Regions from separate parts of the Homo sapiens genome. Here region 2 is linked to region 1. Evidence: fine-mapped expression QTL. A gene starts in region 1. The other region holds a variant in brackets. All regions are shown on one strand. Distances are between the middles of the regions.

The links. PIP is the estimated chance that this variant, and not a neighbour inherited with it, causes the effect.
Region 2: its variant is fine-mapped to the expression of GTPBP3 in cerebral cortex (GTEx, PIP above 0.99).

Annotation. Positions count from the first base shown.
Region 1 is chr19:17,334,179-17,339,545 of GRCh38, forward strand. GTPBP3 (GTP binding protein 3, mitochondrial) reads left to right here and starts at 3,375. Exons shown (of 9, transcript NM_032620.4): 1 at 3,375-3,486; 2 at 3,830-4,077; 3 at 4,187-4,273; 4 at 4,361-4,563; 5 at 4,776-4,848; 6 at 4,945-5,088; 7 at 5,256-5,367. The coding sequence starts at 3,434. It overlaps ANO8 (anoctamin 8), which reads right to left and starts at 677. Exons shown (of 18, transcript NM_020959.3): 1 at 387-677. The coding sequence starts at 492. RefSeq lists a silencer at 180-619 and enhancers at 2,344-3,015, 3,016-3,687, 3,688-4,359.
Region 2 is chr19:17,461,651-17,467,017 of GRCh38, forward strand. No RefSeq gene overlaps it. Among named protein-coding and RNA genes, the nearest start is that of NXNL1, 3.4 kb to the left of the region's middle. RefSeq lists an enhancer at 4,838-4,887. The variant A/G (reference allele first, on the strand shown) is at 2,678.

The DNA of each region.
Region 1 (5,367 bases):
GAGGCCCAGAGCGTTTAAGTCACGCGCCCAAGGTCACACAGTCAAGCTGGGATTTGAACCCAGGACCGTATGATTCTGTATTCTTCGCGGAGAGGCTCTCTCAAGCACATCCCTGGCCCGCCGCGATCCCGCAGCCCGGGGGTGGCAGGGCGCAGCCCAAGCCTGGGGCTCTCGGAGGGGCGTGTCCGCGTCTCCGCGCCGGGACCCCAGCCCGAAGCACCGTCCCAGCCCCGCCCGCCGGGCCGCAGCCGCAGTGCCGGGAGGAGCCGGCCCCTCGTCCAGACACCACGCCAGGTTACGTTTGACCCTGATCCTCCTCCCCGTGTAGTTGACGCGGGCTCCCCAGGCACCTGCAACCCTGTCTGGTCCAGCCGCCGCACACATACCCAGAACTCCGGACGCCGGGGCTGCAGGCTCGCCCTCCGGCGGGGGCCTCTTGCCACGCTCGCCCTCCAGGGACGTGCCCCCGGCGCCGGAGGCGGCCTCGGCCATGGCGAGGACAGGTCAGGTCAGGGGCTACGGACGGCCCGGGCGACGGGGAGCCGCGGGCTCATGGGGCCGGTGCAGCCGCGGAGCGCGCGGGAGGAGGAGACAAAGGCCGCGCCCGCCCGCGCCGGCCTCGGTCCTCGCTCGCCCGAGCGCTGCTTCTCGTCCCCGCCCGAGCCGAACCTCGATTCTCCTTCCCGGCCCGATGCACGTCACTCTAGGGTTCTCAGCTGAGTTCGCCCGCCTAGTTCTTTGGTTCGCGTCTCCGCCCGTGTTGTTTTCTGGGTTTCCTTCTCGCCCGCCTACCTCGCTCCCTGCTGCTGGTCCCCGCCCGCACTGATGGTGCATTCTCCAACTTGTCCCCACCCATGCTTTCTTCTGGTCCCCGCCTCGGAGCCTCAGTTTCCCCATCTGCAAACTCCGGACCCTGGAGACGCTGTTTGGAATGTGAGATGGGCGTAAGTTGACTAAGGGAGGACGTGGGAGGGGCGGGCCGGTTGGGGAAGATTCCTGGTGACAATAACTTCAACCACCCCAGTAGGGCTGTGATACATAATTACAGCAAGCCCTGCTTAGGAACTTTGCACGCACCATTTGGCTGCCTAGAACACTCCTCATGCACTCTTCGTCCGGTTAACACCGACTCCCTTCAGGATGTAACCTCGGAGAGGATCCCATAGAGTTGTCAAGTTTAGCAAATAAAAATACAGTCCGTCTAGTTAAATGTAAATTTCAGATAAAAGAATAAATGTTAGCTGGGCGGGGCGCACCTGTAATCCCAGCTACTTGGGAGGCTGAGGCAGGAGAATCGCTTGTGCTCAGGAGGTCAAGGCTGCAGTGAGCTGAGATCACACCCACTGCACTGCATCCTGGGCGACAGAACGAGACCCTGTCTCAAATACATATATATACATACATACATAAATGTTTCTATGTCCTATGTCTACATGGGACATACTAGTACTAAAAAATTATTCATTGTTTATTTGAAATTCACATTTAGCTGGGCGACCTGGGTTTTACCTGGCATTTGGCCAACCCCTGACTATTCTGAGTAGCTCAGTCTGTTAGACTGAAAGCCCAGCGAGGGTAGGAACGAGGGGCCAGGTCTGGTTCTCAATGCGAGCACACAGTAGGCGCTTGCTGTACGCTTGTTACAGATGTAACAACTAGCTTGTTACAGATGTAATAACTAGCTTGTTACAGATGTAACAACTAGAGAATGGCAGATGAAATATAAATATGTCATCATTTGTTCCTATTTTACAACTTAAAATATTAAAGCCTCGGCCGGGCGCAGTGGCTCACGCCTGTAATCCCAGCATTTTGGGAGGCCAAGGCGGGTAGATCACCTGAGGCAAGGAGTTCGAGACCAGCCTGACCAACATGGCCAAACCCTGTCTCTATTAAAAATACAAAAAATTAGCCAGGCATGGTGGCGCACGCCTGTAGTCCCAGCTACTTGGGAGTCTGAGGCAGGAGAATCGCTTGAACCTGGGAGGCGGAGGTTGCAGTGAGTCTAGATCGCGCCACTGAACTCCAGCCTGGGCGACAGAGCGAGACCCCGTCTCAAAAAAAAAAAAAAAAAAAAAAAAAAGCTTGGGCAACGTAGTGAGATCCCCGTCTCCACCAAAAAAACGAAAACAAAACAAACAAACAAAAACAACAAACAAAAAGAAACACCGAAAAGTTAGACTGGCATGGTGGCTCGCGCCTGTGGTTCCAGCTACTCAGGAGGCTGAGGCGGGCGGATCCCTTGAGCCCAAAAGTTGGAGGTTGCAAGAGCCGTGATCGCGCCACTGCACTCCAGCCTGGGCGACAGAGTGAGACCCTGTCTCAAAAATAAAATAAAATAAAATAATAAAGTAAATAAAAATATTGAGCAGGGCGAGGTAAGGGGGTATTAGAACTCTATTCTGTCAGACAGATTTTTCTTAACACGCAAGTGCGCCGCCCGCCCGCTCTGATCCAGAACCAGAGAATCCGCCATGCGAAGGCGCTCCCGGAGACCCCGCCCAGCCAGTGCCTGGAATTCCACCATCAGCGCTTTATTCCGAGTTTCAGTGCTGTCCTGGGTTAACCTGAAAGCAATCTCCGAGGCTCCCCTTTCTGGCTTTCGGGGAGCCAGAGACTGACCGGACACTTGGCTCTGCAGGTGCAGACCTGGACCAGAGAGACAGAGAGCCAAGGAAGTCCACAGTGGAGAGAGGGCTGTGCTGGGGGTTCCAGGAAGACTTCCTGGAGGAGGGGATCTTGGAGCTAGGCCTTGAAGACGAGTTTGTCAAATGAGGAAGGGCATCCGAAGCCGAGGGAACGGCAGAAGGGAACGCTGGGGAGGGGAGAGAATCTGGAGAGTTCCGGAAAAAGCAAGTAGGACTCTTTCCAGAAGTTCGGGCAAGATTTTCCCTGGATCAGGGCGTGGGTTCTCCAGTACTCGTCCCTCCCGGTCACCGAGATGCTCTGAGTTTCCGGTCTGAACCTGAACGTAAAGAGGTGTAGTCCCTCCTTTCTTGAACGGGAAAACTGAACGCACATAGGTCCTTGCCACGCCTAAGGCTGCGGAGTGAGCAGATGGAAAATGCGGGACTCAAAACCTCCCCTCGCTGTAATTTGCACTGCCCTGTGCCAAACTCTGTCCTTTCTTCCATTCCTTATTCCTATTGTCAGCCTCGCTGCGCTAGGACCCTAAAAATTTGGTCTCATGTTGCCCGGGGAACAACATTTCGCTACACCTACCTCCATACCGCCTCCCGCTCCCGCTCTCCCTTGCACCAGCCAATGGAAGCGAGTATCTTCAGACGGTGGGCAGGACGTATCCTAAGATACCCAATGGTGGTCGAGAATAGTTGAGCACTTTACTAGTCAAGCCGCGGAGTGGGCGGGGCCCCCTGCCCAGACTTGAAGCCACACAGGCAGGTCGGGCAGGCGGGTCGCAGGTTGTAAATCCATGTGGCGGGGGCTTTGGACCCTGGCGGCCCAAGCGGCACGTGGGCCTCGCAGGTGGGGCTACAGGGGAAGGGGTGCGACAGCTTGGGGTGCTGCTTGGACCCCAGACCCACTCCCTGGGTTTTAGGGGCCCAATTCCCTGCGGCAGAGCAATCATTCGCGTTCTTCCGTGCCTCAATCGTTCATGACCCTTGCGGCAGAGCCCATATCTGGGTCTCCTTCTGGCCTCACAGTCCCTAATCCGGTCACCCTTCGGCCTTCAGAACATCCAATTTGTGCATCCCCCAGCCGCAGAACCCCCCCACCTGGAGCATCTCGCGATCATCGAGCCCTCGGTCTACTTGACACTGAGGCTGAGCCTCCCAGGTGCGCTGATTCGCCTCCCCTCCGGTTCCAGATTGTGCACGCGCCGGAGCAGCGGCGCACCAGCCCCCGGCTCCGGCGCCACCATCTTCGCGCTAAGCTCTGGCCAAGGCCGCTGCGGCATCGCAGTGATCCGGACCAGCGGCCCCGCCAGCGGCCACGCCCTCCGAATTCTCACAGCACCCCGAGACCTGCCCCTTGCTCGCCACGCCAGCCTGCGCCTGCTCAGCGATCCCCGCTCCGGGGAGCCTCTGGACCGCGCACTGGTGCTCTGGTTCCCAGGTGAGGGTCCCCAGGTTCCGAGCCTCCTGTAGGTCCCATGACTCAGTTTCCCCCTTCCAAGGGTTTGCACTGGCTGTGCTGTCCTCCTGTCACCTGTCTGTCACATTAGGTCCCCAGAGTTTCACCGGTGAGGACTGCGTGGAGTTCCACGTGCATGGAGGCCCGGCAGTGGTGAGCGGCGTCCTGCAGGCCTTGGGTGAGTTGCAGCGTTGGGTGAGATGCTTGGTCCTCCCAATGGGCCTGGGTGGGGACCAGGGGGTGTCAGACTGGGACCTTCCTGCAGGCAGCGTGCCAGGGCTTCGACCGGCGGAGGCAGGCGAGTTCACCAGACGGGCGTTCGCCAATGGGAAGCTGAACCTGACCGAAGTGGAGGGGCTGGCGGACCTTATCCACGCGGAAACAGAGGCGCAGCGGCGGCAGGCCCTCAGGCAGCTGGACGGAGAGCTGGGCCACCTCTGCCGTGGCTGGGCCGAGACCCTCACCAAAGCAAGTCCCCCATTTGTCCATTCTCTCCCTCAGAGACCCCATCTGTGCAACCCCTGCATGAGACCCCCTCTCAATCCCGCATTCATTCCCTGCGTGAAAGCTTCCGGCCTATGAGCCGCCATTCTGGCCCCTGAAGTCGGGCTGGACAAATTGGGTGTGGGAAGGTGGGTTTCTGGGTGCACACACCACCTCTGCTCTCCCTGCCCCGCCAGGCTCTGGCCCACGTGGAGGCCTATATCGATTTCGGCGAGGATGACAACCTGGAGGAGGGGGTCCTGGAGCAAGGTGGGTCTACCTGGTGGTGGGGGAGGAAGACACCTCATATCAGCCCTCAAAGGCTCCCCTCACTGTCTCTCTCTGCCTGCCTTCTCTCACCCACAGCCGACATCGAAGTACGGGCACTGCAGGTGGCCCTGGGTGCACATCTACGAGATGCCAGGCGCGGGCAGAGGCTCCGCTCAGGGGTGCACGTAGTGGTCACTGGACCCCCCAATGCGGGCAAGAGCAGCCTAGTGAACCTGCTCAGTGAGTAGGCGGCGGGAAGGGGGCGGGGCCTAGTGCCAGGGGCGGGGCCAAGAGCTGGGTTATTGAGTTAGTTGTTCAGGTCTAAAGCTCCCTCCAGACATGGGGTAGAACCTGGGGGAGGAGCTCCCTTGTCTCCACCCTCTCCTCTTCTTCTGACCCTCCCCCAGGTCGGAAGCCTGTGTCCATCGTGTCCCCGGAGCCAGGGACCACCCGTGACGTGCTGGAGACCCCAGTCGACCTGGCCGGATTTCCTGTGCTGCTGAGCGACACGGCTGGGTT
Region 2 (5,367 bases), 130 kb after region 1:
ACTCCATCCTGGGTGACAGAGCAAGACCTAGTGTCTAAAAATAAAAAATAGGCTGGGCACGGTGGCTCACGCCTGTAATCCCAAAGCTTTGGGAGGTCAAGGTGGGTGGATCACCTGAAGTCAGGAGTTCGAGACCAGTCTGGCCAACATGGAGAAACCCCATCTCTACTAAAAATGCAAAAATTGGCCAGGTGTGGTGGCTCACGCCTGTAATCCCAGCACTTTGGGAGGCTGAGGCAGGTGGATCACAAGGTCAGGAGATCGAGACCATCCTGACTAACACAGTGAAACCCCGTCTCTACTAAAAGTACAAAAAAAATTAGCCGGGTGTGGTGGCGGGCACCTGTAGTCCCAGCTACTCGGGAGGCTGAGGCAGGAGAATGGCGTGAACCCGGGAGGTGGAGCTTGCAGTGAGCCGAGACCGCGCCACTGCACTCCAGCCTGGGTGACAGAGTGAGATTCCGTCTCAAAAAAAAAAAAAAAGCAAAAATTAGACCGGGTGTGGTGGCTCATGCCTGTAATCCCAGCGCTTTGGGAGGCTGAGGCAGGCGGATCACCTGAGGTCAGGAGTTCGAAACCAGCCTGGCCAACATGGTGAAACCCCATCTCTACTGAAAATACAAAAATTAGCGGCTCGTGATGGCACATGCCTGTAATCCCAGCTACTCGGGAGGCTAAGGCAGGAGAACTGCTTGAGCCTGGGAGGCAGAGGTTGCAGTGAGCTGAGATTGCACCACTGCACTCCATCCAGCCTGGGCAACAGAGCGAGACTACATCTCAAAAAAAAAAAAGCAAAAATTAGCCAGGCGTGGTGGTGCATGCCTGTAATCCCAGCTACTTGGGAGGCTGAGGGAGGAGAATTGCTTGAACCCAAGAGGCGGAGGCTGCAGTGAGACAAGATTGTCCCACTGCACTCCAACCTGGGGGATAGAGTGAGACTCTGTCTCCAAAATAAAAATAAAAAAATTTAATATCTGACTTTTTTGTATGTATATTTTTTGAGACTGGGTCTCACTCTGTCAAGGTGCCCAGGCTGGAGTGCAGTGGTGTGATCATGGCTCACTGCAGCCTTGACCTCCAGGGCTCGGGCGATCCTTCTATTTCAGCGTCCCTGTTAGCTGGCACTAGAGTTCTGTGCCACCACGTCTGGCTAATTTTTTGTATTTTTAGTAGAGATGAGGTTTTGCCATGTTGCCCAGGCTGGCCTCCAAGTCCTGGGCTCAAGCAATCCTCCAGCCTCGGCCTCCCAAAGTGCTGGGATTACAGGCATGAGCATGCAACTGGCCACACCTTTTCATAAATATATTAAATCACATTGATTCACATGGACTCTACTAGTTACTTCAAGGTCTAAGTCAGGGTGAGCATCTGTGATATTTTAGGGTGTCTCCTATGATCAGGATGTGATATGAAATTATCTTTGATTTCCACAGGGGACAAAGTTCCAGGGCTAGCCAATGTCTGCATTCACAGTGAGAGGACCTGATGAATTCCAGTTAGAGGCTAATGAAATGGGCCGGGCACAGTGGCTCACACCTGTAATCCCAGCAATTTGGGAGGCCGAGGCGGGAGGATCACCTAAAGTCAGGAGTTCAAGACCAGCCTGGCCAACATATAATGAAACCACATCTCCACTAAAAAAATACAAAAATTAGCTGGGTGTGGTAGCGCACTCCTGTAATCCTAGGTACTCAGGAGGCTGAGGCAGGAGAATCGCTTAAACCCGGGAGGCAGAGGTTGCAGTGAGCTGAGATCACGCCACTGCACTCCAGCCTGGGTTACAGAGTCAGACTCTGTCTCTAAAAAAACAAAACAAAACAAAATGGGGGGACTGGGCGCGGTGGCTCATGCCTGTAATCCCAGCACTTTGGGAGGCCAAGGCAGGCGCATCACGAGGTCAGGAGATCGAGACCATCCTGGCTAACATGGTGAAACCCTGTCTCTACTAAAAATACAAAAAAAAAATAGCCGGGCATGGTGGCGGGCACCTGTAGTCCCAGCTACTGGGGAGGCTGAGGCAGGAGAATGGCATGAACCCGGGAAGCGGAGCTTGCAGTGAGCCAAGATCGCGCCTCTGTACTCCAGGCTGGGCGACAGAGTGAGACTCCATCTCAAATGAAAGGAAGAAGAAGAAGAAGAAGAAGAAGAAGGAGAAGGAGAAGGAGAAGGAGAAGGAGAAGGAGAAGGAGAAGGAGAAGGAGAAGGAGAAGGAGAAGGAGAAGGAGAAGGAGAAGGAGAAGGAGAAGGAGAAGGAGAAGGAGAAGAAGAAGAAAAGAAGAAGAAGAAAAGAAGAAGAAGAAGAAGAAGAAAGAAGAAGAAGAAAATGTATTTTTTTTTCTCCATCCTCCTGAATTCTGTCTGGACCACCCACACCTTAAGATTGTAGATGTGTAGGTGTAGAAGGCTGAAAGTCATGGATATTATATTTTGCATCTCCAACTCCAACCCTGTCAAAGGGTAGAGACTAGTTCTGCCCCCCCTTGAATCCAGGTAGGTTTCATGACTTGCTTTGACGTATCAAATGTGGTGGAATGGGCTAAGCGCGGTGGTTCAGCCTGTAATCCCAGCACTTTTGCAGGCTGAGGCAGGCGGATCACTTGAGGTCAGGAGTTCGAGACCAGCCTAGACAACAATGGTGAAACCCTGTCTCTACTAAAAATACAAAAATTAGCTGGGC[A/G]TGGTGGCAGGTGCCTGTAATCCCAGCTACTCAGGAGGCTGAGGTGGGAGAATTGCTTGAATTCGGGAGGCGGAGATTGCAGTGAGCTGCGATCGTGCCATTGCACTCCAGCCTGGGAGACAGAGCACGACTCCGTCTCAAAAATAAATAAATAAAATAGAATGTGGTGAAATGTGTGAGTTTCAAAGATGTCTTCATTTTATTTTATTTTTCAGAGACGGGGTCTCAATCTATCATTCAGGCTGAAGTTCAGTGGTACAATCATAGCTTACTGTAGTCTTGACCTCCTGGACTCATGGGATCCTCCTGCCTCAGCCTCCTGAGTAGATGGGACTACAGGTGCATGCCAGCATGCCCGTCTAGTTTTAAATTTTTTTGTAGAGGTCGGGTCTCACTCTTTTGCCCATGCTGATCTGGAACTCCTGGTCTTAAGCGATACTCCCGCCTTAGCCTCTCAAAGTGCTGGGATTACAGCTGTAATGTGCCTGGCCTGAAGAGTATCTTTAGTTTCCTTCTGCCTCTCATTTTACTCTTGAAACTCTATTGGGACCCCATGTAAGAAAGCTGATCTAGGCAGGGCAAATTTGCTCATACCTGTAATCCCAGCACTTTGGGAAGCTGAGGCGATCAGATCTCTTGATCCCAGGAGTTCAAGAGTAGCCTGGGCAACATAGCAAAACCCCCTCTACAAAAAAATACAAAAATTATCTGGGCATGGTGGTGCACCTGTAGTCCCAGCTACTTGAGGGTGCTGAGGCTGGAGGATGACTTGAGCCTGGGAGGTCAGGGATGCCGGGAACTGAGATGATGCCTCTGTACTCCAGCCCCCAGGCAATAGAGTGAGACCCTGTCTAAATAAATAAATAAATAAATAAATGCAAGCAGATCTAGGTATGGCACAGTGGCTCATGCTCATGCTTGTAATCGCAGCAATTTGGCAGGCCAAGGCAGGAAGATAGCTTGACCCCAGGAGTTCAAGACCAGCCTAGGCAATGTGGCAAAACCCTGTCTCTACAAAAATTAGCCAGGTGTGGTGGCACACGCCTGTGGTTCCAGGTACTCGAGAGGCTGGGGTGGGAGCCTCTCCCTCCTGAGCCCAGGAGGTCAAGGCTGCAGTGAGCTGGGATCGTGCCACTGCACTCCAACCTTGGCCACAGACTGAGACCCTGTCTCAACAATAAAAAGGAAACAAGGGGCGGGGCGCGGTAGCTCATGCCTGTAATCCCAGCACTTTGGGAGGCCAAGGCAGGTGGATCATGAGGTCAAGAGATCAAGACCATCCTGGCCAACATGGTGAAACCCTGTCTCTACTAAAAATACAAAAATTAGCTGGGCATGGTGGCACATGCCTGTAGTCCCAGCTACTTGGGAGGCTGAGGCAGGAGAATCGCTTGAACCCGGCAGGAGGAGGTTGCAATGAGCCAAGATCACGCCACTGCACTCCAGCCTGGCGACAGAGTGAGACTCTGTCTCAAAAAAAAAGAAAAAGAAAGAAAGAAAAGAAAGAAAGAGAAGGAAGGAAGGAGGGAAGGAAGATAGAAAGACAAAAGAAAGAAAGAGAGAGAGAGAAAGAAAGAAAGAAAGAAAGAAAGAAGCTCTAGTCCAGGGCTCTGTGCCTCTTGTCTGTAGAGGACTAGGAGGTAAACACTTTCATCTTTGAAGTCCATGTGGCCTCTGTTGAGAACCATAGCTCTCATCTTTCCTCCTTCTGTAGTGGGTTGAACTACAGGCTCCCCACAAAAAGATATATCCATGCCTTCGCCCCCGGAACCTGTTAATGGGACCTTGTTTGGAAGGAGTCTTTGCAGGTGTTACTTAGTTAAGGATCTTGAGATGACATCATCCTGGATTATCTGAGTGGGCCCTAAATCCAATGACTGATGTTGTAAACGGGAGCGTGACCGCTGAAGCACAGCATCACAGGGGCACGTTTAGGCCTCTGGATGGCTGCGGGCGGGCCTGACTAATGTCAGGCCTTCCACAAGAGGTGGTGGAGCAGAGTCTTCTCTAACTCCCCTGGGGAAAGGGAGACTCCCTTTCCAGGTCGGCTAAGTAATGGGTGCCTTCCCAGGCGCTGGCGTTACCGCTAGACCAGGGAGCCCTCTAGTGGCCCTGTTCGGGCATGACAGAGGGCTCACACTTGTCTTCTGGTGACTTCTCACTGTGTCCCTTCAGCTCCTACCTCTGTATGGCCTGGTTTTTCCTAGGTTATAATTGTAGAACAGAGATTATTTTAATATTGGAATAAAGAGTAATGCTACAAACTAACGAATGATTAATAATATTCATATATAATCATATCTATATTCTATTTCTTGTATAACTATTCTTATTCTATATATTTTGTTTATTATACTGGAACAGTTTGTGCCCTCGGTCTCTTGCCTCGGCACCTGGGTGGCTTGCCGCCCACAGAGGTGATCAGTCCAAGACTACCTGGCTAGAAACGAGCAGAGAGCAGTTTGGCCCGGAAGCCTGAGTTTTACTCCCTGGTCCACATCTCAGTTTCCTGGGGATAGGACAGTCCCCAATCCCTCATCTGAAATCCCTGGGGACAGCTGTGTTTGTGAATTGGGAGATTTTGTATTTTAGGAAAACAACTGGGGGCAGAGGCTGCTGTATACCCGTGCTGTTTTAGGGGGCTCAGAAAATAATACCCAGGCCGGGCTCAGTGGCTCATGCCTGTAATC